Linked DNA regions of Homo sapiens. The protein of the gene in region 1 purifies or fractionates together with the protein of each later gene. This does not show direct contact. Each region holds a gene or a part of one and is shown on either strand. Other genes may lie near its edges. The genes, in order: CDC42SE2 and SSC5D.

The links.
Region 2: the proteins of CDC42SE2 (region 1) and SSC5D purify together in Homo sapiens (affinity purification with mass spectrometry; one large-scale study listed by BioGRID and IntAct). This does not show direct contact.

The regions. Positions count from the first base shown.
Region 1 is NC_000005.10:131,378,800-131,382,618, forward strand, and holds part of CDC42SE2 (CDC42 small effector protein 2), read left to right. Parts: intron 1-3,819. UniProt on the Homo sapiens protein: Probably involved in the organization of the actin cytoskeleton by acting downstream of CDC42, inducing actin filament assembly. Alters CDC42-induced cell shape changes.
Region 2 is NC_000019.10:55,494,858-55,498,676, forward strand, and holds part of SSC5D (soluble scavenger receptor cysteine-rich domain-containing protein SSC5D isoform 1 precursor), read left to right. Parts: intron 1-3,022; coding exon 3,023-3,340; intron 3,341-3,819.

The DNA.
Region 1 (3,819 bases):
TGACTTTTGCATAGTGCTTGGGTTTTTTTCACAGTAACCACTGAAAACTCAGCTTCACAAAGATATGCTGTTAAAAAGAATGTATGTTCTAATGTTGAAGTTACAAATTATCTGAAGCTGGTAGTTCACTCAGTGTCAAACACACATTGAGCCTCACTGTGTTTCCCTCAAATAGAAAACCCTGGCACCCCTGGGTTTTGCTGGGATGCCCCAAGACACAATTTGGAAATAGTGGGCTTGTTAGATTTAATTCATAGATTTAGGGATTTAGTTACACAACTCAACTGACTTTCTCTAGGTCATAAAGTTGAGTCAGCATAGCTTTCAACCTTTCATTTACTTTGGCCACATTTGCATAAATGATTGCTATTTTATACCCTGAAAGTTCCAGCTTTTTTCACTGTCCCAGATGGCAAGTATTTTCATTTTCTTTATTCACTCTGTATCTGCTTCTAGAACTACCTCAGGCTGTACCATCTTTTACTCTTACTGTAGGCCTTCTGCTAACCTGATGGGACCTGGCCTTCATTTGCTTCTCAGTGACATGTGTTTGCACACTAAGCTGCCCAGAGAATAGTCTTTGGGAAAGTTTTAACTTTTAAGTGATGATGTAATTACTGTTTTCTAGAAGCTACAGTTGATCCATATGCCAGAAATGTGAGGGAGGTAGATATAGTATGGTTATATACATATTGTTTAGATAAGGATGCAAATAAGGTTCTCACAGTAGCAAATCCTTTGAAATTAACCTGCTTCTCGCCTCCTTGGATATACTCCAAATTGTTTAGTTCATTATCTTTAATAATTATGATGTAATTATGTAAAAAGTTATGGGAAGAGACATTTTGCCTAATGTCCCCTCCACACTAACATAGCAGTTCATTTGGGTCTCTAGTCCTTCACCTTATGCAGAATAAAAGTTAATATTTTAAGGATGCAAGGATTATTCAGATGGTTGACGGTCTTAACAAAGTTTCCTATAAAGAATTTGTTTCCAGGAAACACGGTGACTCTGCTAACGACAACTGTTAATACGTATCAGAGCAGAGTGCACCATTTCCTGTTTTTCTTTGCGGAGGTCTGACTCTGGAATTCCCCTTGTTTGCCCATGACTATTCTTTTTTTTTCTTTTGAAACAGAGTCTCACTCTGGCACCCAGGCTGGAGTGCAGTGGTGTGATCTCGGCTCACTGCAACCTCTCCCCGCCAACCCCCCACCCCAGGTTCAAGTGATTCTTCTGCCTCAGCCTCTCAAGTAGCTGGGATTACAGGTGCCTGCCACCATGCCCAGCTAATTTTTTTTTCTTAAAGAAAATATTTAATTTTCCATAGTTATTGGGGCTACAGGTGGTGTTTGGTTACATGAGTAAGTTCTTTAGTGGTGATTTGTGGATTTTGGTGTACTCATCACCCGAGCAGTGTACACTGCACCATATTTGTAGTCTTTTATAAAACCCTTGCCCCCCTCCCACTCTTCCAGAGCCCCAAGTCCATTTGATCATTCTTATGGCCTAATTTTTGTATTTTTAGTGGAGACAGGGTTTCGCCATGTTGGCCAGGCTGGTCTTGAACTCCTGACCTCAAGTGATCCACCTGCCTCAGCCTCCTGAAGTGCTGGGATTATAGGCATGAGTCACCATGCCCAGCCACCCGTGACTATTATACAGTACCCCAAACAAGTGTGCCATTCTTTAAATGTCCACATTGTGCCTTAAAATACTGCATTTTTATAGTTTAGAATATTTATTTATATTTAAATCCAGGTTTTTGATAGAGTGTTGTAGGAAAGAGTGTAAAGAACACTTCCACCTGTGTCTAGATCCACCTTTCCTGCCTTCTCAGGAACCTTGTAAGGTTGACAATCCATTTTCTTTTTCCTTCTTTTTCTGTACCTCTTTTACTGGATCTTTCCCATTAGAAATTGAGCATAATGAATTCTCTGCCATCTTACAGGGGAAAAATTCAATCTGTTCTCATCTCCTTTTCTCCTTTCAGCCACTGACCTGTCTTCTTCCTGTCCAGAAGGCCAGACTTTTCTCCAGAGTTGTCTCTGTTCTCTTTCTCCATTTTCCACTTCTTAGACCCACCTCAGTCCCCTGCAGCGTGTCTTCTCCTCCTATTACTCCACTGACATAGCACTCACTAAGGTGCCCATTGACTTGATATTGCTGAATCCATTGCACGTATTTGTCTTTAATTGACCTCTCACCACCTTTCAGCTCTGCTCCCTCTTGACACTTGTACACACTGCTGATTTTCCTACTGACTTTCAGGCTGTTTCTTTTTGGCCTTCTTTGATGGCTTCTTCTCTGCCCAACCACAGAAATTTAGTTTGTCTAGGAAATCTCATTAACTTGGCTTTGTTAATGCTGGTGATTCTCAGTCTCTTATCTCCAGTTTGGATTCTCTCAGAACCCAGTGAATTGCACACTCTCTGCTGAAATCTGAAGTCTGTGCATATTTCTTAACTCCTCCCTCTCACTGTTACCAAATCCAGCCTGCAACCAAGTGCTGTTTTTTTTTGTTTTTTTTTTTGTTTTTTTGAGAGAAGTCTCGCTCTTGTCCCCCAGGCCTGAGTGCAATGGCTCGATCTCGGCTCACTGCAACCTCCGCCTCCTGGGTTCAAACGATTCTCCTGTCTCTGCCTCCCAAGTAGCTGGGATTAAGGCACCTGCTACCACGCCTGGCTAATTTTTGTATTTTTGGTAGAGACGGGGTTTCACTGTGTTGGCCAGGCTGGTCTCGAACTCTTGACCTCAGGTGATCCACCCGCCTCGGCCTCCCAAAGTGCTGGGATTACAGGCGTGAGCCACCACATCCGGCCCAAATGCTGTTGATTTTATCCACTGACTACTTCTTGAATCTATCCACTTCTATCTGTGTTATTAGTTGAATCCACATAATCCCTTTTCACCAACATTAATAACTTATTTTGACCTCTTCTAACATGTTTTCCACCTATAGCTATTGTGGAATAGTCTTCTCAAGCTATTTAATCATGTTATTCCTCTGCTTTAAAACACTTTCAATTATTTCCCATTGTTCTTGGGAGGATCACACACTTCAGTCCTTTACAAACTCTATGTGATCTGGTTCTTGCTTATCTTACTATTTTCATCTTAGGTGTTTACCTTTACTATGCTCGCACAACACAGTTGCTCCTTTCAGTTTCTGGACAGCTGAGTTCCCTCAGCCTTGGGGAGCGAAGGACTGAAAGCTTCTTTCATATCTCACAAACTGTTAGATTAGATGCCATGAAGAAACCTTCCAATACTAAGGTGTGACTCCCAGCTCAGTATAGTTCAAGCTGAAAAATACTCACTATTATTTTCACATTCATATATATTAGTTATCTAATAACACAGTATGATAGAAGTAAGCTGAAGTCTTCCCATCCTTTGCTTTTCAGTGTCAGAGTAGCTTCTTGGGAACTAGTTTTGTTATCAGCTTTTGAATATTCTCAGTAATCATGTTTGCTGAATTATTGTTTGTGAGTATGTGTTAATACCCTTCTTTCACAAGCATATCTATTCATTCTTTTTGGGTGAGATGGGTGGTGGCCTGAGCACACTATGGTTTCTGTTCTCCCCCAACACAGTCCTGCAGTAACTCAACAGAATAAATCACTTAATATGGAGGTATAGACCAAGTGGAGCCTTTTGGCAAGCTCTAAACACACCCTTCTGGAGGAAATGATGCAGAATGAGAACTGTTAGGAGTTGCTTCTGCAGGTTCACAGGACAAGGGTTGATCAAGACTCCTCCTAGTGGTCTGGAAGTAGGTACCAGGAAGTATTCTCTGGTACCACCTCCTCCCCTGC
Region 2 (3,819 bases), on another chromosome or scaffold:
ATGGGGGGCCTCTTGCAAAGAGAAAGGTGGAGAAGAGGAGCACAGGGGCCTCGCCCAGGACACTGAGCTGGGTTCAATGCTCTGCTGTTGCGTCTGGGAGCGTGTGATAATTCTTGAACAAGGGGTCCTAACTTTCGTCATTTACCAAGCCCCCAAAATTCTGTAGCCAGTCCTGGATAAGAGAAAGGATGCTGGGCTGAGAGTCTGCTCTATTCCCAAGCTGCACGGTGTGGCTGTAGGATCCATCATGGGGTACTCAGGCCAGCTTCAAGGAACAGCCCTGCTCAAACATTACCTTTACTTTCCAGAGTCTCTGGTTCTTTAGCAAATGTGATCAATGGTTCTGCCTGCCTCCTTTCATATATATATATATATATTTTTTTTTTTTTTTTTTTTTTTTTTTGAGAGTGGATTTAATTCTGTCACTCAGGCTGGAATGCAGTGGTGTGATCATGGCTCACTGAAGCCTCAACCTCTCAACCTGCAGGCTCAAGTGATCCTCCCACCTCAGCTTCCCAAGTAGCTGGGACTACTAATTTTTTGTATTTTTTTTTTTTGCAGAGATGGGGTTTGCCATGTTGCCTAGGCTGGTCTTGAACTCCTGATCCCAAACCATCTGCCTGCCTCGGCCTCCCAAAGTGCTGGGATTAGAGGCGTGAGCCACCGTGCCTGGTCTCTTTCATGAGTATTGAAAGGACTGTTGTTTTAAAATATAGGTGTTATTATTACTGAGGTATGGTGAGGCCAGGATCTCAGGAGATGACAGCCACTAAAAAGATTGTGACTGACGGTTCTCAAGAGGATGGCGTGCCACACGGGGCCACACAGGGAAGCACCAGGGCCAGGCAGGAGGTAGACGGAGTGAGGGGGAAGCATGGCAGGAATCTTTTATACATTTATTTAGAGACAGGGTCTCACTTGGTTGCCCAGGCTGGAGTGCAGTGGTGTAATCACAGCTCCCTGCAGTCTCAAACTGCTGGGCTCAAGTGATCCTCCCACCTCCGCCTCCTGGGTAACACAGCTGCATGCCACCGAGCCTGGCTATTTTTTTTTTTTTTTTTTTTTTGTAGAGACAGGGCCTCACTATTGTCCAGGTTGGTCTCAAACTCCTGGCCTTAGGTGATCCTCCTGTCTTGGCCTCCCTAAGTGCTGGGATTATAGGCGTGAGCCACCCGGCCAGGTGCAGGGGTCTTTCTTGTGTTTTTTGCAGGAAGGAATAGGTGAGACAGGTTGAGCAGGCTTAGAACTGGCTGGTTTGAAGAATTTCAGTGGGGCCGGTGGGGAGGGTGGCGACTCAGAGGGTTGTCCTTAGTCATCTGGTACTTGGCCCTGGGGCAATGAGGACAGGTGCAGAATGGCCCAGGGTGTGAGAGCCCAGTGGAGAGGGTGGTTTGCACACGAAAGGCATGCTCAAGCCATTTACCATCTCTAGGAATTAGCTAACCCTGGGAGGGGCAGTCCCTCAGGATCAGGAATGCTCCAAGATGTCAAAGCATCAGAAATACAGAAAATAAAAAGGCGTGGTTAACACAGCTGTCTCCTCAAGATGGGAAAAGGCCGAACAAAAGCAGCAACTTATTTTCACCATGATCACCATTCCCAGAGGTCTCGTTCCCCTTTTCCTGAATAATAATATCAGCTAACACTGAACGAGCATGCACTGGCTCCTGGTGACTGATGCTGTTCCCAGTTCTCTCCGTGTCTCAGTCCAGGTGATGCTTACAGCCACTGTGGTGTGGATACTGATAGGTCTCCATGTTACAGATGAGGCAGCACCGCTGAGAAATGGGAGAGCCAGGATTCAAGCAAAAACACTTGTTCCAGGGCGCACGTTCTTTAAAAAACAATTGTGATAAAACATACATGACATAAAGTTTACCATTTTTACCAGTCTTTTTTTTTTTTTTTTTTTAAACAGGGTCTCGCTCTGTCACCCAGGCTGGAGTGCAGTGGCACGATCTTGGCTCACTGCAACCTCCGCCTCCCGGTTCAAGCGATTCTCCTGCCTCAGCCTCCGGAGTAGCTGGGATTACAGGCTGAGCCACTGCACCTGGCCCATGCCTGGCTAATTTTTGTATTTTTAGTAGAGACAGAGTTTCTCCACGTTGGCCAGGCTGGTCTCAAACTCCTGACCTCAGGTGATCTGCCCGCCTGGGCCTCCCACAGTGCTGGAATTAACAGGTGGGAGCCACCGTGCCGGGCCTGCTGCTCCCTGTCTTTTAAAGGACTTCCTCTGAGAAGCCTTCTCCAGCTTCCTCAGGCAGAATTTTTCTCACCTTCTCCTCGTTGTGTGTCTGCCTTGCCCTTTGGGTACTTCCACTACTCCCTTTAGCTCGCTGAGCTGTAATGAAGTGTGTGCATGCTACTTTCCCTGAAGACCGAGAGCTTTTCAAAGCAGAGGCTGTGCCTGACTCATAAACAACAACAAAACACCTTATTATCCCTGGTGGTCTAGTGGTTAGGAAAATAAAATCTAAGAAAGAAGAAAAAAACCCTTATTAAACCAATAATAATGAGAGAAAATTAAGGGTGGTGAACAACTGCATGGAAAAAGACTTATTTTAATTGAGGTGACATTCATGTAACATAAAGTTAACCAGTTTAAGTATACAACTTAAGTGGTATTTATACATTCAAAATGCTGTACAACCACTACTATTTGGCTACTGTGAATGGTGCTGCTATGAACATTCACATACTGGTATCTGTGTGAATACCTGTTTTCAGTTTATTCTGGGTATATCCCTAGTAGCAGACTTTCTAGATTATATGGTAATTTGATGTGTAGCTTTTTGAGGATCCTCCAAACTCTGCCTGACTCATTATCCCTCATGCCTAATGCAGAAAATGGCACAAAAAAGGCCTCATGAAATACTTGCTGCCTGGAGGAAAGGATGGATGAATGGAGGGAAGGCCTAGATGGATGAGTGGAAAGGAAGATGGGGGGAGGGAAAGGTGGATGAAGAGTCAGGAGGCTGGGCGGCTTCCCCGACTCTAATTCTTTGGGTCTCTTCTACCCCAGGGTCCCCCCAGCTGCGCCTGGTGGCTGGGCCCAGCAAGTGCTCAGGTCGACTGGAGGTGTGGCATGACCAGCGCTGGGGGACCGTGTGTGACGATAGCTGGGACATGCGGGATTCAGCTGTGGTCTGCCGGGAGCTGGGCTGTGGTGGACCTCAGCAGCCAGACCCTGCTGCTGGCCGCTTTGGCTGGGGTGCGGGCCCCATCTGGCTAGATGATGTGGGCTGTGTGGGGACCGAGGCTTCACTGTCCGACTGCCCTGCTGCTCCCTGGGGAAAGCACAACTGCGCTCACAATGAGGATGTTGGGGTCACCTGCACTGGTAAGGAGGCCCTAGCTATCTGTTGACTCCAGGAGGGCTTCCTGGAGGGGAACAGTAACTAACATGGGCACTAACATTGATTGAGTGCTTCCTAAGCCCCAGCCCTGTGCTGGGTGTTTTTGCACATATAACCACATTGAAATCACATAATAAGTCTAGGGTGGTGTGTGTTATGCCCATTTTACTGATAAAGAAGCTGAGGCACAGAGAGGTTGGGTAACTTGCTCAAGATCACACAGCAACAACTAACTGGCAGATCTGGGATTCCCACTCAGAGAAGCTTCTGCTTCCTCTTCCTTCCAGGAATCAAGGAAATTTCCCACTAAGAAAGGAGCTTTAGCTTTCCTACGATGAAAGGAAGCAGGCAGGGCACTGGGAGATGGAAAGAAGCCAAAGTGAGAGCCAGTTAACATAAACTCAGGCAATGCCTGTTATTAAATTGCAGAGGCTGAGCCAGGTGCAGGGTCCTCATGCTGGGC